Regions from separate parts of the Homo sapiens genome. Here region 1 is linked to region 2. Evidence: fine-mapped expression QTL. A gene starts in region 2. The other region holds a variant in brackets. All regions are shown on one strand. Distances are from middle to middle. Region 1 overlaps CHRM2 (cholinergic receptor muscarinic 2). Region 2 holds the start of CHRM2 (cholinergic receptor muscarinic 2).

Region 1 (10,256 bases), 84 kb after region 2:
ACCACAGCTCCTCTGGTGAACAGAGAGTGAGGCAGTAAGCAGTCTCCTGTTGATCATCTGAGAGGGAAGCATCCTTGGGAATGGGAAATAGCATCAAGTCAGTTCAGAGTGGATCCACAGACATTTCAGAACAAGAAGGGAAGGTAGTGCAGCTATGGAAGGCAATCAAGGTGGAATGAAGGGGGCGTGATAGAAGGACATCAAGAACAAACAGCAAGATGTTATTACCTATCTAGAACAGCAAACCAAATATGTATCTGTGCTAGTCACACAAAGACACTAGGCGGTGTCCTTGGATAGATGGCCTTTGTTTTCTTAGTGGCTCATTGCAAAGAGGCCTGTAATATAGAAGGAAAAGGAATCAGAAACTAATATTTAATACACTACAGATAAATTATTTAATCTTCATTACAAACTCCAAAATTTAGAGATAAGTAGCTTCATTTTTTAAAAGATGAAGACACAGAAACTCAGAGAGGCGAAATATTTCTTCCATAATTATTAATGTCAGCAAGTGCTTAATATAAAACTCCAGCTGGGCACTATGATTCACACCTGTAATCCCAGTACTTTGGGAAGCTGAGGTGGGAGGATCACTTGAGGCCAGGAGTTCAAGACCAGATTGGGCAACATAACAAGACCCTGTCTCTGCAAAACTAAAAAAAAAAAAAAAAAAATCAGCCAGGCATGGTGGTGTGCACTTGCAGTCCTAGCTACTTTGGAGGCTGAGGTGGGAGGATTGCTGGAGCCTAGGAGTTCAAGGATGAAATAAGTTATGATTGTGCCACTGCATTCCAGCCTGGGTGATAGAACAAGATCCTGTATTGAAAAGAATTCCCATCTGGCTCTGGAGGTATACTTGCTCTATATGAGTCAAATAATTTATATTTCTTTATCTTGAAAAAGTAGCAATAACATCAACTTTTTAAAACAGTATTTGATTTTTTTTTTTTTTGGAGACAGAGTCTTGCTGTGTTGCCCAGGCTGGAGTGCAGTGGCGCGATCTCGGCTCACTGCAAGCTCCACCTTACTTATTTATTAGATTCAAACATAATGGTTTTTCTATAGCATAAGCCTGCGCTCTAAGGAATTAGTAGGTACAAAATTATAACTATTCACCTTCATGAGATAAGACCAAACTGTTTTCCACAGGGGAAAATTTCTCCAGCAATGTAGACAGGATCACATTTATTCACATTCTTTCCATCATCTGGTATTATAATATTTTGTTGTTATTGCCTCTCTAGTGGGAGTAAAATGATACCTCATGGTGGTCTTCACTTGCATTTTTCTGACTAATAATCTGATTACTAATTAAACTAAACATCTCTTTTTTATTGGTCATAAATATTTTCTCTCCTGTTTGTGGGGATTTTTGCTCATTTTTCTATTGGGGTGATTGTTCTTTTTATTAAGATCATCTCATTAAATGTAGAGTTTGCATCAAGAAGACGAAGTGCCCTCGTTCCTCATCAGGACAAGTGTGGGTTCTGGGAGGCAAAAGGTCCCTGTAGGACAATAGAGATACAAATCATAATGGGGATGGATCCCCCTCCAGGATGCTCCTGTCCCTGCGGGATGGGGGTGGGAGTGGGGATCAGGGTAGTTGAGGCAATGACAGGCTTCCATGGAACCTCCCATGATACCTGTCTTCAGTTCAGAGGAGTGGGGGTTATTTGCCAGGAAATGGATGGTGCCTGAGGCTTTCCCACATCTGTGAAGGAATTTAGCATTCTGTGGAAAGTCCCCAATCTCAAAACCATCCACTGTAGGAATTGAAATTGCAATAAAAATTCCAGTGAACGATGTAAATGAATAAATAAAGTTGGATTTCAGTCCTCAAGCTAAAAACAACAAAAAAAGAAAAAGAAAATAAAAACAGATGAAGAAGTTGCAAAAAGTAGCGTAGCAAATTGGTAGAAGATTCTGAACCAGGACTGAACAAGTCCAGTGCTTTTACAGAATAGCATGAACCCCCAACCTGTTGTTGTTGTTGTTGTTGTTGTTGTTGTTGTTGTTGTTGTTGTTTCGAGAGAGAGAATCTTGCTCTGTATCTCAGGTTACAATACTGTGGCAAAAACATGGCTCACTGCAGCCTGGGCTCAAGTGATCCTCCTGCCTCAGCCTCTGGAGTATCTAGAACTACAGGCACATGCCACCATGTCCGGCTAATTTTTTTTATTTTTTTGCATATTGCCTAGGTTGTCCAGGCTGATCTTATACTCCTGGCCTCAAGTGATCCTCCTGCCTCAGTCTCCAAAAGCACTGGGAATACATAGGTGAGCCAGCCCGACATGGCCTCCATTCCCTGAGACTCATTCTCAAACAGAGGAGGCCCCCTGGGTGAAGCTACTTGCATAAGACCATGTGGAATATCCAGCTCGAATGGTTCTTGTTACTTCAGCTTCATTCTTTTAATAGAAATGAGGCAAAAGGTGCCAGGCACATGGATGACAAAGAAACCCTGTCAATTTTGAAGATACATAGAATTTGTTGTAAAGCAACCACCAGCACAGCACCTCCCAGTCTGGAGAAAGGTGGGGGTGAATGTAGATTTGATGTGAAACCTTGTGTAAGATATATAATAGGCACTAGAGAAATGACACTTGGCGAAGAAAATAATAAAATATGACTTGCTAGAGAGCCTGGCTTTGCTGACCAGCTGTAGGTTCTATAACTGCAGCTTACGTCCCTTTTGTTTCACAGTATTTATAACGCACTTGGCAGATCTGCATTCTTCCCTCTCTGATTGCAAATAAGAAAAGAGGGAGTGAGGGGTTGGCATATGGGAAGAGGATGAAAAGGGATGATTCGCTGTCCTTTCCTAATGATATCCGGAAAGAATAACTTGGGATCTGGGATAGAAGAAACTTACACAAATACAATATTTCAGTGAATTTATTCATTCTTTCATTGGCTCCTTCCCACCCTCCACATTCGTCACTGTAAGCACTGGATCACTTTCCTTGTATGGTATGGTGAATTGACTAGTGAGAAGAGACCTGTTTTTCTACTGAAATGGCAACCTTTAATCTACATGCATTCTTTGCCTTTCCTCCTGCTATAGGTTTTCCAGGTCCTGGCACCCATATTTTCTTCCTGCTCTTTTCTCTCTCTTCTTTCTTCAGTTGTTTTCAGATTGAGGAGAAAATAGTATCTTTGGGGCATCTCTTATCCACAAGCAGGTTTAGATTACTTCCCTGTTATATGTACAGGATTTGTCGCCCTAGACCCTCAAATGCTAAACTGAAATTCCAGATCTTTAGGGTGGGAGCAGAACACAACTTATTGGTCCCACTTCGACAAGGGCAGAAGTAGATTCGAGGGCTTGTGCATACGTGGAGAGAGAAAAGAGCTTTGAAGATATCCACAATACCTTTCCAACATTTGGAACAGGACAAATAATTATGCGTTTCTAATATGATGACATAAAATATATTTATAACTATGCCATGTTCTCTCACTACAGAGTGCAAAACATTCTGTTAAAAGCAGTATTTTAATTTCCCTCTTATTTCCTCATTTTTCTCCTTTCTTCTTCTATTATTCTTCTAATTGCTTTATTGATTTATAGACTTATTTAAAGCGTATCGAAGATCTTATTATCCAGCTCTGTCAATTCACAAATGAGAAATTGAGAACCAGTGGCATTGTTCAAATTGTTTATGTACTTCAGTCATGAAGTTCTGGTCGTCTGACTTCTACACTGCTGTTCTCTACCCATGATGACTGAGTTTCTACTTTAGGAAACTGCCTCTCAGACATCTTTTTTAAAACTTTTTTTTTTAAGTTCAGGGGTACATGTGCAGGTTTTTTGCATAGATAAACTTGTGTCACGGGGGTTCACTGTAGATTATTTCATCACCCAGGTATTAAGCCTAATACCCATTAGTTGTTTTTCCTGATCCTCTTCTTCCTCTGACCCAGAACCCTCCAATAGGCCCCCGTATATGTTGCTCCCTCTATGTGTTCATGTGTTCCTATCACTTAGCTCCCACTTATGAGTAAGAACATAAGGTATTTGGTTTTCTGTTTCTGTGTTAGTTTGCTAAGGATAATGGCCTCTAGTTTCATGTTGGATTCATGTCCATGCAAAGGACATGATCTCGTTCTTTTTTATGGCTGCATAGTATTCCATGGTTTATATATACTGCATTTTCTTTATTCAGTCTATCATTATGGGCATTTAGGTTGATTCCATGTCTTTACTATGGTGAATAATGCTGTAATGAGCATAAATGTGCATGTGTCTTTATGATAGAACTATTTGTATTCCTTTGGGTATATACCCAGTAATGGTATTCTTGGGTTGAATCGTATTTCTGTCTTTAGGTCTTTGAGGAATCGCCACACTGTCAGACATCTTTTGATAGACTTGTAGACTGGCTCTGTTTTTTGTTCCACTTTGTATTGTTTCACATCAGTAAAATTAATATACAGTCTGACTGTTTAGAGACTGAGCATCTAAGTGCCCCACTACCCCTATGTTACTTGTGAATATTAATAACTGTAAATTTCTGGTAGTGACAAATGGACCCTTCAGAGACCTCAGTAGAGTCCTGATCCTCTATAAATTACCAAAACGCTATTAAGTGTATAGATAGATTTTTCTGGTCTATGTTTTCTATGATTTTCCAAAATCACAAATATCTTAAGTCATATGAGTACTTTAATTTATTTTGTCTATCCTTAGAAACCCATAGTTAGTAAAATTTCACAGCCATGGGACATTAAGTTATGCCACATGCCAAATTACTCATTCAACAAACATTCACTGAATGCCTGTTACGTGCATTCTACTGACAGGCAGTGAAGATGAAAAAGATGGATGTGACTTTTTCCTCCG[A/T]GAGCTCATAGACAGTGGCTGAAACAGACATGCAAACCAAAAATTTCTTATGCAGAGCAGGCATCCTATGCCTTAAAATTTAATGAAAAAAAAAAACAAATATATTTCAGACGGACAAAGCACAACAGGAGAAGGCAATGCAGCATCAGAAAGGCAGTATCTGTTGGCTCCTAGTTGTACCCCACTTGTCCTCAGAGAAGGTCCAGCAACACTAACCATGGAGGCAAGAAGACTAATCCAAGCAGCACAGCACTGCCTCTGACTGGCACATGCATTAGGACATTTTCCTATCCATCCTCTTACCATGGTGAGAGGAGATCTTGGGCCAGAGCTGGACTGGTGGACTATGAATCTAGGTAGAGGAATGGCCTGTTTATTATGAGAAGAGCCTCCAGGGCTCAGATGCTTATATCAGTCCAGAACTTTGTGTTCTTCCTTTGAGGTAAGAGTGAGCTGACACCTTGATAAGCTACCAAAAGGGAAGAGGAAATGATCCAAGGCCATCTAGATTCTTCTCTCCTCATTCTTTATACACATACATATGCATTATATACATATGCATATACCTATACCTATACATTTATATATGTGTGTATTTTTCCCCTCCACAATGCCATTATTTTAAAAAGTTGGTGGTCTGTTGTCTGAGCAAATAAAGTAGGTACACACATGTGTTTAGCTTTGTGTGAAATCTCAAACTTTCACCATTCTCTCCACATGTTATCCTCATCTCATTTTTAGGATCAAAAGAAAGTAAGTTATTTCATGATTCTGTCGATTTCTTCCTCCATATTACCTGTCTTTCTCTAAGATCTTACTAAATTGTAGATTATCTTCTAAACTTAATAACATAGTTTATTTTATTTCTGTTGACAAACCTTGCATGTCTCCTCTTCATATTCAATGGATTCTCTACCTGAACTCCCTTTCTGTTTATTTCTCCCTCATGAACAGTGAGTTCATGGAACTATAAACAATGTAGAAAGATCAAAATACAGAAAAAATATGAAAGACTTTTGAAAAGGTAGGGGCACTGGATGTATTTTATTCTCCACTCTTTAACTGTGATTGGAGCCCAGGAAGCTGAATGATCTTGACTACATCCATGGATTCTTCCATCCTCGTAGCTGCCAGTTGGGTTCAACCAATGGGAAGCATCAGAAGATGATCAAGAGACAAGAGGACAGTTGGATTAAGATATTCATAACCTCACTACCCCTTCTGGGAGATCACTATAGATTGTTGCCTCCCTCTGCTAAAGACCACAGCTCTTGGCAGACATTCCTCAACACAGACCTATATTCCTGGTTCCAGGAATCCCCTCCTCTTCCCACTTTGGGCCTAATGGTATTAATACCCCTACTAGTACTATACCCTAAGTGCTGCACTTTCCTTTCTTGGTTTCTTAAGGACATTCTCGCATAGTTGTGTTGTAGATGGTAGGATAAATGAGCCGTAAAAGAGTTTTAAAAGTTCGTGTTTTCTTTCACATTGGGCAACTCCTTTTGAGTAAAATATTCACCTCTCCTCCTTCTTTCTCATGATTTTGAAATGCATCCTGACTGCTTCCTTTACTAGCCAAAGTATTTTATAATCCATTCATATTAGTGCATTAAATAACTCAATTCTTATGAAGCATGCTGCTGATCTGAATAATAATGTTATGAGTGAAAATGGCACCTTTAGTACTATTACTCTGGGGCTTCAACTTAGCATTTGTTTACTTCCTTGGAATACTCTTGTCCTCGGGTTTTCACATTCTACCTGGCTCCTAATTATTTCCCAATGGTAAAGTGCCAATTCTAATAGTAGAATAAGATGGGATACATTCAACCTTATGCACTGTCACCTATTATTCGTCAAATTCCAGCCATGAGTTGGATGAGCTCTGTATCCATGGCCATGACAGAACATAGTCCAGCTTGGCCATTCATTTCAAAAGGAATGTCCTGGCCTTTGTCTCTCTGTGCTTAAGGAGGCACCCTTTGCCCTTCCAAGCAGTTGGAGTATACTAGGACGTATGGTCATTGGTCTAGGCAGTTGGTTTTGCAGAATTTTGGAATAACTATCTTCACACATTTAAGTCTGGAGCATTCTCTATGCCCTTTAGTACTAATTTTTGAAAAATATTATCATAAAATGAAGTTGATAAAAAGTAATAAAGGTCTGTTCTCTTGATGCCTGAATTTCAACTTGGCATCTTAAGCATACATTATTTATGCAAAGTGTTATAAATCACCATATGCTCATTAACTACTTGTTGTCTGCACATATAATGAGGGTTTTTTGTTTATTTTTAATATATTTTATTCTACTTGAATAAATGGTAGTAATGTTTCAACTGATATTTACTGAGTAACTTCCCTCATCCTTATACTACTCCCAGAGTTAGAAGTAACTCAGAAGGAAAAATATTAGATTCCAGTTCACTCTGATGTATATTTTTAATAGGGGAAAAGAGAGATACTATAATTGTATCATATTACAACATAGAGAATAAAATTTAAAAATAATTTTGAACAAGACAAACAAGGTGATCTCACAGAAGGATGGAGTTATTTCAGGACTTTGGAATGGCATGGAATATAAAATATGGACTTTATGAGAGAGCAAGAAAGAATTGTTAGTCAGCGGTCTTTTTGTTTTGATTCCTCCTTGGTTTTTATACATTCTTTTTAATGTACTATTTATTTTCTGTTTGAACTGTTTTCTAGATGAGCCTTAATATAAATGTACTGTTTAAGGGGAAATGTCAACTCTTAGTCATCTAGAAAAAATGCTTCACTCTGACCTAAGATTAGTGGGTATAGATAGCAACAGGAAGCCTGGATTGAAAATAGACCTGGTTTTTGAATCCTCCATTACTGAACATCAATATGTAAAACAGATACAAATGGGGCATCAGTTGCAAAAGAAGACAGGAAGCCTCTACCCACATTTCCACACTTCCTCTACCCAGAGGATTTGAAAATTACTGGTATACTTTTTTATTGTTAGAGCATTCAAATGTTATCCTTCATTATTAAATAAATAAATGGTGACTGCTGACATATTAGCCTCAACTCAAATCCCTTTGTCTGTAGCTGTATAGTCAGTTGCCAAGAAGATATTTTAGTGTCAACTAAAGCAACAAATCAATGCAGACAGGGAACAGGGAGGGGGAATGGGATCATATGAAGGTTTTTTTTTTCCTCTCTCTCTTATTATTACACCCATTTACCAGAGGAAGTGTAATGCAATAGGGTGAGGACCTCTCTTCCCGCTGACTCCTTAGCAAACACGCTTGAAGGCTACATGTGACATAATGTGAGGTTAGCCCTGGGACTCACTGTTCAAGAAAGCTGGCGGGACTCCCCCTACTCCAAGGCCCCTCAGAGATGCCTAATGGAGGTGTGTTTTGGCCTGGATTGACAATCCTCTTGGATGACTGACTCTACAGACCAAGTGGCAAAACCCCACTTCACTTTGTGCTGGAAAGGCAGCACAGTAAGTCAGGAACTAACCTGCGGCAGGAGGCCAAGGATTTGGATGGCAATTTCTGTGCTTTGTTCAGTACATCTTTTGGGGGCAGCCCACTCCTATCAACATAACAGGTGTCATAGTGTATATGTGTGTGTGTGTGTGTGTGTGTGCACATGCACACATGTATGTGTGTATTTTCTAGAATAGCTCCATTAATGAAGAAACTAGGAACCAACTAAGGAACTGTTAACTATTGGCAAAATATTCAGTGCATTCTGATTTTCAAGTTGTTGACTTATTGGTTTGAAGCTTGTGCAAATAAACTGGAAATGTTAAACAAGCTGACAAACACATAAACCCACAAAAGATAATGACAGTCTATTTATTTGCTGTGCAATGACATCCATAAGATTATAAAAATACCAGCTTATTCTTTTTGACTATTACTCAGTGACACTCGAGAGACGAGTTGGGATCTCTGACAAACAGAGTATTTATGGGATGACATGTATCTGAAAAAGCCACAAGGTACATACCAGCACTGTGTGTCTCTATATTGTATAAACATATCTATTGTGTATTCACCCCTCAGTTTACAAGTTGCTATTTTTCCTGAACATGTTAAATGTTCTGTAGAGTTCTCTAAACAAATTTTAAATATTATGACATCTCAGTAACTATTGCATAGAAAATCTTCATATCTAGAATAAAACATAAAACTTTTTATTGAAGCCACATCTATAATTAGTCAAAACGTTTTATCAATTCAAAAGTTTTTAAATCAATTCACTAAGAATATCAAACTGAAATTTGACACTTTATAAATTAAGCTAGAAGTTTAAAAACTAAATATTTACCATTTGATCATCTGATTTTGAAAAATAACAATGACTCATAGTGGCTGCTTGATATTATGTAATCTATTCCATTTGGAAACATAGTTTGAAACTGATTACACTGGTGCCATTTTTCAAATTTTTAATTTTCTAATGAGAATTTGGCAAATTATTACCAGCACATTTTTATGCTAACGGAAATGAGCCAGTTGAGAGGGAAGAGAACAGCTGGTGGAATAGATAAGAAGGCAACATCTTAGAGTTGGTAAGAGAAGAAGGAATCCAGTGAACAAGAAGAGACATTGTCTTTAGCTTAGACACAATGACTTCATCCATGATAGCAGCAGCGAGGGCAGAGTGGTTGGGCTCTGGTACTTGCAGCTCTTTGAATACCATGATGGGAGCCTGTGGGCACTTTATTTTATTCACTTCTATTTTCTATTGTACTTCTTACATCTATTGTAATTCTTACATCTATTGTAAAATGAAGAAGCAGTGTCATCTTTTTTTTTTTTTTTTTTTTTTTCTGAGACAGCGTTTTATTCTGTTGCCCAGGCTGGAGTGCAGTGGGGCGATTACAGCTCACTGCCACCTCTACCTCCCGGGGCTAAAGCCATCCTCTCACCTCAGACCCCTGAGAAACTGGGAATACAGGAGTGTGCTACCATGCCCAGGTAATTTTTGTATTTTCTATAGAGATGGAGTTTCACCATGTTGCCCAGGCTAGTCTCAAATTCCTGAGCTAAAGCCATCCACCTGCCTCAGCCTCCCACAGTGCTGGGATTACAGGTGTGAGCCACCATGTCTAGCCAGCATCATCTGTTGAGAGTAAGAATGGGTAAGGAAGTGCTGGAGATTAAATGAGACTTCAAATTACACAAATTAGTTTTTAAATGGCAGTAGGAAGTAAATGGATCACCAGCTCTGTCCACAATACAAGTGATTACCTCTTCAGTTGACAGTAATATTACTATTCCAAGTTTGAAAAATTTGAGCATATGCCCCTCGGTATGGTCTCTCTGAGGCCCACCAGTTTGTCTCTTCCTTAGCTTTTAGAGATGTCTGAAAAGATGGCTGAGAGGCTATTTTTATGTTTCTGCCCTGGAGACTCT
Region 2 (10,256 bases):
CTGTCACTAAACATTATCCCTCAGAATCAGTCCTATTTGTATATGAAAACTTCAATTGCAGGGTCTGAAAAAGAAAAGCTCAGGATTTTCTAGAATAAAAACAGATCATCTTTTTAAGCTAAAGAATAGAAGCTTTTAAATTACTCTCTGGGAAGGTCTGTAGGAAAAAATAAATAATTCTAGGAAGAATAATGTGTGTATTATGAAACCATTATTAAGATTTCAAAACAGTAAGAGACAATTGAAGAACCCATTGTAAGTAGTGATTGTCATTTAGCGGAGATCTACTTTTAACCCAGGATTGTTATATTTCAAACTGAGGTCAAGGAAAAGAAAGGTTTCTTTGGCATCCATCAGATAAATCAGCCCACCTTTTCCAAAGCTCCTGCTGATAAATACGGTGCTTCCCTGATTTAACTCTTAAACAGTCTGTGTGAGTAGAAGATGAAGGACAAGGCAAGATCTGCTCTTGGCTCATTTTCCCAATATAGGCAAAGCCCTCAACTTCATTTTCTTGGTTCCTTGAAAATAGAAAAAAAATTTTAAAAATGTTATGACTGCCATACCTGGTGGGAAATCACTGGAGTTGAACTTGTCACCCTCTTAATCCACTTATGATGATAGAGTGCTGATTTGTGCATCTAATTATTGAAGCCTAATTATTGCTGCAGTGAAATCAATGTGGCATGTTAAATATGCGCCACACTCCCAGGAATGAGACCTGTGCTTCCCCTTCTTCTCATGTTAGTGGTGACCTTATTTATAATCTTATTCAAACGAAAGCTTTGTCAAAGATTCAAAGTCACCCTTCACAGGCATTGAGAGCTCTTCAGTGTGTGTCTGAAGGTTATATGTAATGAAGTTTGGCTTAATAAGTAGAAATTACTAATTTATTAGAGTTCCTTGAGGTGGAAAAGAGGAATGTAGATTAAAAAAAAAATCTCATAGATGCATTTTACAAAGTATTTAAAAAGCAGTTTTGAAAATGTTCCACACCAGCCGGCACGGTGGCTCACGCCTGTAATCCCAGCACTTTCGGAGGCCGAGGCAGTCTGATCACTTGAGGTCAGGAATTCGAGACCAGCCTGGCCAACACGGTGAAACGCCGTATCTACAAAAAATACAAAAATAGCTGGGCGCAGTGGCAGGTGCCTGTAATCCCAGCTACTTGGGAGGCTGAGGCAGTAGAACTGCTTGAACCTGGGAGTCAGAGGTTGCAGTGAGCCCAAGATCATGCTACTGCACTCCAGCCTGGGCGACGGAGTGAGACTCCATCTCACGAAAAACAGACAAACGAAAATGTTCCACACCAAGAGTTACTAATCATATAAATGCTATATTCCTTGGGTGGGGAGTATTCTTTTTTTTTTCCTCAGAAAACGAACTGGCTTAAGAGATTAAAATAAAACACTCAGAATACACATGATCATTTCTTGTATGGAAACAGCAACTAGAAGAAGAAAAGAATTAAGTTCCCTGGGGTCAGAATGCTGATGGATTATGTTTATCTTGTTAATTATATGATGGTGATGAGCATTATGGTTTGCATTGTCAAGAATCACTCCTTAATACTCTGTTTCAGAGGTCACAGGTGTGACCCAAGAAACTGTATTTTTCAGTCTTGACCGACAATGTTATATTTATAGCAATTTGCTATGTGTCACATGCTCTTTTAAGAATTTCACATGAATTACTTCCATTATCCCTCCTACCAACCCCGACATGTATGCTATACCCATTTTATGGTTTAAGAAGCTGAGGCAAAGAAAAGTTAAACAACTTCCCTAAAATCACAGTGAATGGCAGAGTTACAAGTCTATATAAAGATGTGTTCTAAGTGATGACCTAGAAAAAGAAAATGGACATAATTGATGACCGTTGGCTAAAAATGATGCTTCCCTGTGCAACTCCTCTCCAAAAGGCCTTAAGTATACTGACTTCTATTAAACATAGCACTTCAGTCACACATAGACTCTGTTTTATTGAGGTTTAAGAAAAATATTCGTTTGCCTTCATTGGTTATTTATTTGGTTGCTCATTTTGGAATGTGCAGCTTTATTAGTAAAAGGGGGCTTAGTGTTCTTAATGATGTAAAGGAACAAAAAAGTAACAAATCACTGGGTTTTCCTGTCTATTGCTGGCCAGGGATCTATTTCTCCTCACTTTTTTGCTTTGATGGGTGTGTGTCTGTGTGTGTGTTCCAAAAGACTCAAGCAGCTTCATGGGTTTATGGAGGCTCAGTAGACAGAAATAATGGAGTAAAAAAGGAAAATGTGAATTCATTCTGAAAAGAGTGTCTAAGAGAGGAGAGATGACAAAATCAGATATTTAATGTAGTGGAACAAATGCTGGGAGAGGCTGAGAACAAGACTTAGCAGGGCTGTTTTGATTTTCTCACAGGTATCTTATAATCACCCAGTGATGGTGGGATGTAAGTATGGAGGTTGAAGGCAGAGACACAGTATTGTAATGCTGCATTTTAGGATGACTTCAATCAAGCAAAATCAACTTTGTGTCAAGTCCTGCTTGGTGATAGCTATGAGTTAACAAAAAGGGCAGAAACTTTCAGCTACAGCATTTCCATTTATCAATAAATTTACATTGCTATAAAATTAATCATTGGATTGTCAACTGTTACATAGATGTTTCAAATGAAGTGTCTTTTCTTGTCAATAGGAATAGAAGCTTATAAAAACACAGGGACAGTGGTTTTTGCTCTTGTGGATGGCCTTTAATACCTAGCAAAACCCTGGACGTCAAGAACTGAACTGAATTTAATTGACTATATTATATTATATCAATGTATCTTTAACTTGCTCTTTGTCTATCCCTGTGACCCAAAAAGTGATGTGTCCAATTCTGGGCTATTCAATTTAAGGTTTCCACTTCTTGCTCTTTATTTGATTGAAGTTGGATGAGAGAAAATAAAGCCTATGTAATATATAATATATTGATGTTATATTCACATACACATATGCTTTTACAAAAGCAAGTTTTGGCCTAAGCTACACTTTAGAATCCTATCATTGTACTTTTATCAAATGAGGTTAGTATCTAAAAATAATAGATACAATTATTGGCAGAAATTTCTCATTAAAATAAAGAAATAAACATCAAAGGCAGGTCTGAACACAGAAAGTTTGCATCCTAAATCTTTTTTCATGGAGATCACAAATTCCCTGAAGCATCAAACATATATATATTCTGGAGATATATATATATATATATATTTTTTTTTTTGAGAGAGATATATATATATATATTTTTGAGATATATATATATATTTTCTGGATATATATATATTTTCTGGATATATATATATTCTGGACATATATATATTCTGGATATATATATCCTGGACATATATATATATATTCTGGATATATATATCCTGGACATATATATATATATATATTCTGGATATATATATATATATTCTGGATATATATATCCTGGACATATATATATATATATATATATATATATATATATTCTGGATATATATATCCTGGACATATATATATATATATATTCTGGATATATATATATTCTGGATATATATATATATTCTGGATATATATATATATATTCTGGATATATATATATATATTCTGGATATATATATCTATATATTCTGGATATATATATCCTGGACATATATATATATATTCTAGATATATATATTCTGGATATACACATATTCTGAATATAGATATAGATACAGATATAGATATAGATATATTCTGTAGTCTACTGCCCATTAGCTGAAGAAAACATGGTCACTGGCTCATATTTAAAGTAAGAGAAAAAAATTACTTCTCCTTCGGATACATTTGTCAAAGCTCCAAAGAAATAAACAATCTGTGAATAGTTCAGCACAATTATATATTTACAAAGCATAGTGGATTTAGTCTAACATTTTCCCACCTGGAAAAACTGGGCTTAAGTATCTCCGACAAACAAAAAGCAATACTGCGTTCTTCCCAATATGCCATGTCACCTTTGTAGCACTCACACACTTGCAGGGAAGGGACTCGGGGTTGGGGGTGGTTCTGATGTAGAAATTGCAGATGGAGAGCTGGGCTCTGGGGATGGAAATGGAGAGAAGCGAAAAAGAGCCTGGAGAAACGGCTGTCATATTTGCTCAGAAGAACCGCCAAATCAGAGAGCACAGAAGATTTCATTGGAGGAGCGCCTTCAACAGCAACTAATCCTGTCATACTGAAAGAAAATTGTAAATGTTCTCTCCAGAAATTGTCCGCCCATTGCAGCTAATCGAACACACACGCACGAATACAGACACGCTCTCCTGCTGTACTAAAGGCGCCAGGGCGCAAAGACCTAGGGAGCGCGCGCGGGCACACACACACACACACACACACACACAGACACACACACACTCACACACTCCAGGCTGCGGGTTGGCCAGAGCCTGGAAATCGCAGATTTCACCAGGAAATCGCCGAGGTACCCGAATAGGTGTTGCCTCCCAAAACTAATTCCTACTTCCCCAAGCACTTTGGTGAAGAAATGAATCCAGCCCAGCTCGCCGAGGCATCCAGGTCTCCATTCTATTTTGGTCTCCAGGCTCTTCGTGAAAGCCAGGTTTGAAAGTCTTGTTTGCTTCTCCTTTAGTGGTTTGGCGTGGAGGGCGGGGGCAGCGTCAATTTAACTCCAGTCTAAACCACGAACAGGTCACAGACTAGCCAAGTGGCTGAGACGAGTGTGGGGTGCGTGACTCTGCCTGCGCGCGCGCCAGCCCCGCAGCTCTCGCCAGAGCCTTGGGGTCGGTTCTCTCCCGCCTCTCCCGCCTCTCCCGCCCCACCCCTACAGTGTCTCGGCATCAACTAATCTTTTCCTTTTCTTTTGCAAGATCAAGGGAGAAAGAGAACCGGCAGCTGGCCTCGGACTCTAAGCGGTGCGCAGCTCCAGCCCGAGCGGATCGGCCCTGAACCCACAAAGGACTCCTCGCTCCTTCAAGCCTCCACCACCTCGCAGCCGGGGAGGCAACTGGAGCGAAACCAGCGACAGGTAAGGGCCCCGCGCTGTGCAGCTCTCCGCTTACCCACTCCAAGGGCCCTGGCACCAGGGGGTCTCTCCCTTCATATCCCCCCAAGCCGGAGGCTCAGGGGTCGGGGCTTGGGGGAATTGGAGGGAGGTCCTCCCCACGTGCAGATTCTCAAACGGAAACTTTGGATCCTGGGGCTTGGAGGGTTGCGAGCAGTGATGGCGGGTCTGAAAGGAAGGGGCAAACGAGGCACAGCGCGAGGCGAGGTACCCCTACGATTCCGACGGTCACTGAGTCCAGCCGAATGTGGCGAAAGCAGCCTGGGAGCTGCGCTGTCCCGGCGTCGCTCCCTATTCCAGCCCCCCATTCCCTCTACTGTTGCTGACCCCCCTCCCGCCACCCACTCCAGATGCAGCCATGGACAAGACAAGGAGAGCTTCGTCCCTCCCGCCCCTCGGGTTCCTTCCTGCTGGGGTCTGACCGCGTCTTCTGTGCGTGTGGGATGGAGGCCCGGCTCGCTCGGGCTCCGAGCTGTCCCCCGGCTCCGCTTTCGGAGCAGCCCTTGGGCGCTGGAGAGGTTTCCCATTGCGGTCTCCAGGTCATGGCCAAGGAGGAGAAGCAATTAGAATGGGGGAAAGGGTCCCAAGACAAAGGAGAGGGAAGCATTCTGCAATCCCATCCTATTTGAGCCCCGCGCAGGAGCTGGACTGTCCGCCGTGGCTGGGGGACAAGGTCTCAGCCCGAAGCTCATGAGGTACCAGACAGTGCCTGGGCTTCGCCACCTAACTCACAATGGGTCCTGAACCGCCCGGGCAGTCCCCGGGGTCGTAGACTGGGGACCGCTGCACCCCTCCCCGCCCGCAATGTCCCTTGGAGTCCGCACCTGAGGTCCCAGGCAATCGCCGCTAACTTGTAGCTCTCGGACACGGACAGGTGCGGTCCATGCCTGGTGCCGGTAGACGCGCAGAAATTCCACCTGTGCGCGCTGCCCGGCGCCCCTGGGGCCCCTCACGGGGTAAGTAGAGACTCATCTGGGAGAGGTGAAAATTCCCCAGAATTATTGACACACACGGCGGCACACCCTTTGCCTCCGTCCGCCTCCAGCATCCGCATCCCTTTCTCTATCTTCCTGCCCATTGCCGTCCTCGAGGCTGCCCTGAGATACAGAATTGTCCCAGGCTGAGTCCACCGACCCGCCAGTCCCTGGCGATGATGCCAAGGCTCTTGCATGTACGGAAATACCAGCAGGGAGGTTCGCCAGGGGCAGAGAGGCTGGAGGAGAACAGAGAATTGGAGGTAAACGCGTAAAGCCAGCAGAACTGTCGGTGGACATTTCACCCAGGCCGCCCTCCCGCGTCTTTAAGTCAGTTCACCGCCACAGCACGTCTGTGACTGCGGCCACCCAGGGCTCCAAGTCTGCCAGCCCAGGCGCCGCGAGCCAAGAAGAGCGCGGCGCCTCCCACTCCTCAAGCTCCGGAATCCCCCACATCGACTTTCTATTTCCCTGTCTTCTTTTCTTTTTTGTTTGTTTTGCTTTTCCTGCTCTTTTCTTAGCGCTGGGTGGCAGTGGGTATGCGGCAGCCGTGTGATTTGCCCATCCCCTAGTACACGCAGCCAGCGACACAAGCACACAGCGACCAGTCCCCACGCTGTGCCACACACCCTCCAGCGGTCCGGCGCGCAGCCCCTGCTCCACAGCCCGGGACGCCTGCAGCCACCGCCAGGGTCATGGCCATGGCCCACGCAGGGCTCTGCGGGTGGAGAGGGGAAGTCAGCCTAGACTCCAGAGAGAAACCCTGGGGCAACCCGAAAGGCCTGAGGAAAACTGGAATTGGGGTTAGGCATGAGGGGAGGGAGTCTCTGGGGAAAACGGGCCGGGCTGTGCGGAGCCCTGAGGGCTCCTGCGGCTGCAGCGCTGCAGGCCGCCCGCGTCTCGCCCCGCCCCGCCGCTGGGCGTCCCCGCCAGGAGCCCACCCGCGGGCGGCAGCTTTTCTCCATGCTGCCCAGGGAAGTTCGATGCCTGGTGCTGGGATGCGCCAGCGCTTCTGTTCGCTTCTGGCAATCCTGGCGTCTCCCAATGAGAGGGCTCTCAAAATGAAGCTTTTAATAAACTCCAGAGTAAGGAACTCGGGATTGTGCGGCAAAGGCCGCGCATTGCACTTTGTGAGCAATCGGTAAATATGCGCAACCATATGATAGGAAATATATGCATTTTCATTGATAAGAAAAAAAGAGATGATGGTATTTTTAAACAGAAGCCACAAACAGGCATACCTGTGCCATTGTTGGGGAGCTAATAATAAAGGCACTGATGATCACAGGAGTAAGAACAATTGACTTGGCCAAGAGACAATTTTAAGCTGGGAACTGTATTCGGCTGCAGTTCAGAAAGTGGACTTTTGAGACTTGTCAAACGAATGGAAGAATTTTGTGCCAACAATGTCCCAGCTTTGCAGGCTTGGCAGCTGAGGACTCAGAAGTAACAAATTAATGCCAGGTGAATTATTATTGTTACTACTATTATCAAAATGTGTTCCAGTTGCAGCAATACAATGGATAAGCAACTTCCTATTGACTCTATTTGCTTTCCTGGGCTAGACAATAATGCCAATTAAAACTTAAAAAATTTAACCTGACCCTAAAAAGAGGTGAGAACTCCAGCCAAATCTGTTTACCATTTTAAAATAAAGCTCTGTGAATGAGGTGGGGTGGGAATGGGGGAAAGTTTTGGGACTCCAAATTCCCAGGGCTAGACTGTCTGAAAGATGCTTCATTTTCCTATAAAATAAAGAGGCATGTTTGTTTGTAGAAGGGTGCTTGAGGGTGCCTGGAGGCAAATTGGAGTGAGCAAATAGGTGGATTTGAATACTGTCATAGTTCCAGTAAAAGGGAACCCAAAGAGCATGTTTTCAGCTCTCAACTAACTTCAGAGTCAGATGTGGAAAGAACTAGCAGGTGAAATACTGGTAAAAGTCCCTTTGGAGTGAGTTCCCATGGTCCTTCAATTTTGGGAGGCTGAGACTGTTGTCTTCATGTTAAAAAACAAACAAACAAAAACACATATTGCTCTAAATTTGACCCTATCGCCTTCATTGCCCAGAAAGTCCAGATAGTCAAGCATCCAGATGTGTCTTTACTGGACAATTTTCCAATTCCAATTCCAGAGCAGCCATTCCCCAGGGCCAATAGGAATGGGTGGTTTCAGAGATCCAAAGAAAACAGTCCCAGACTGCTGGCAGGTAGGGAAGGCACAAAAAGCATGAATGACACTGTCTTCAATGGAAGTTAGGCTGGCTAATTAGGAGTCCTATGTCTCTCTGACCCACAACAATGAGTAAAGTTAAAACAAGTACAAAAGAGGGAGAAGAGAAGAAATTAGAACAAAAGGGAAATGAAGACGGAATGGGAGAGAGAAAAATGAGGACAAGAATCTGTAGGTATATCAATAATCGTGCTGGATTCAACCTCCATCACTGATGTCAGCCTTTGTTTAGAATATGCATGTGAGCGAACCCTTTCTATTATCTTCACAAGATCACCCAGACACCATTCTCAATCCTGTCTTAAACTTTTCCCACTTTACTCAATAGGACAGAGACTGACAGAAACATTTTGCCACACAGTTCTCTTGAAGAATTGGTTTTCTTTATTTAAACTTATATTTGACTTGCTTGAGATTTTATGACATGGACTCTCCGTGGCATAGTTCCCAAGAGACTCCTATGTATCGAAAGCCACCAATGTCCACCTTGTGACTACTAACAACTGGCTTTTGCTTCCTGTACCCACTCTGTCCACCTTTGGTTCATTGAGCAGGCATCAGGACTTCTCTCATTTAAGATAAATGGCATAAGTATACTGATTGCATATCCCACAGCTCACCTGGCCTATGTGGTGGAGGTGGTATGTGGGGAAAGAGATGCAAGTCACCTTTCCTTAGGCAGGTATTTTTGCTGTGTGTATTCTAAGTCCTTGGCATTATTCTAAGCATCTTCCCATATGATATTTTCTGTTTTGTCAGTTGCTTTAGCCTCACTGCTTAAAATACAGCCAGGCATACCTAAGAAACATATTAAATCTCTTTTGAATGAGTTAATACAGCAATCAATTTTCTCATTTTATCTTTGCAACAATCCTATGTAGTAGATGTTATTTTCTACAGGAAGAAATCAGCATTCAGAGGGGTCTGGTAATGACCCGAGATCATACAGCTAGTAAGTTGCAGCCCCTGGATTCAAACACAAGCTTGTTGGACTCCACTGTCTTAGTTCTTATAGTGTGTCAATCGGTTCGCTATAAATAGTTGTGGCACTTGTTTTCCCTGTGTTTGGGGAAAACAAAACCATGGCATTCAGAAGTTCAATGATGTTCTCCCCATCTGTTAATACAACTTTGCATGTTTTTGTTAGATCCTCCAAACCTTAAGCAAAGAAGAGGCAGTGCTGAGTAGGCTCTTAGTTGGCACGTGCTTGTCTTGTTTAGTCAGTGATTGCCTCTGGCAGAGGTAAACGAGGGCACCAAAATTTTGGCAGATGCCATTTTCACCTCTCAGCAATACTAAGACATTATTAAACAGAAGTTCTTTTGTCTGATGCATAGTAATAAAAGATAATTTTGATATCATTCAGCTGAGTTCATGATAGGAAGCAGATCAAGAGACTTTTTCAAGGTGACACAGCTAACCAAGAACTGCATAAGAACACACACATCCCAATCCCAGTCTAGTTGTCTCTCCATTTTTTCATGCTAAATGAGTTCTCTTTTTCTATAAGATTGTTGGCACTTAAGATTCTGAATTTCAATGGCCCCATTTACTTTTAATTAGTATTTATTATCCACATGTGCTTTGAAAAGTATAATGTTACTTTGTAAACTGCTATTAGCAAAGAATGAGGTAGGTTCCAGTTGGTTTGCCTCTTTCCACTCTTTATATATCTTTGTCTTACTTTATTTATTTCTCTTTTTTTTTCTTCACATGTTCTAGCTCCTTCTTTTATACTATGACCTAAATATACAATCATCTTAACTGGTGCTGTTACCATGGTAATGTTTCATGGTAGATAAGGGTACACACTAAAAACTCAGTTTTCTCATTTTCTTTCATTAGTAATGGAATTCCTTCTGTCTCTCTTTTTTTTCTCTGTCTTCCCCCATGCCCTCCCTCTCTCTCTGCCCCCCCTCTCTCCCCTCTTCCCTCCCAAATCCAAGCTTTCACTGAATGATGCCCTCTGGTGTTCAATAACTGGAA

Evidence for each region. PIP is the estimated chance that this variant, and not a neighbour inherited with it, causes the effect.
Region 1: its variant is fine-mapped to the expression of CHRM2 in fibroblasts (GTEx, PIP above 0.99).

The regions. Positions count from the first base shown.
Region 1 is chr7:136,948,802-136,959,057 of GRCh38, forward strand. All of the region lies in intron 2 of CHRM2 (cholinergic receptor muscarinic 2), which reads left to right. All of the region lies in intron 2 of LOC349160 (a long non-coding RNA gene), which reads right to left. Among named protein-coding and RNA genes, the nearest start is that of MIR490, 51 kb to the left of the region's middle. The variant A/T (reference allele first, on the strand shown) is at 4,847.
Region 2 is chr7:136,864,388-136,874,643 of GRCh38, forward strand. It overlaps CHRM2 (cholinergic receptor muscarinic 2), which reads left to right and starts at 4,265. Exons shown (of 4, transcript NM_001006630.2): 1 at 4,265-4,605; 2 at 4,874-5,031. RefSeq lists an enhancer at 4,944-5,706.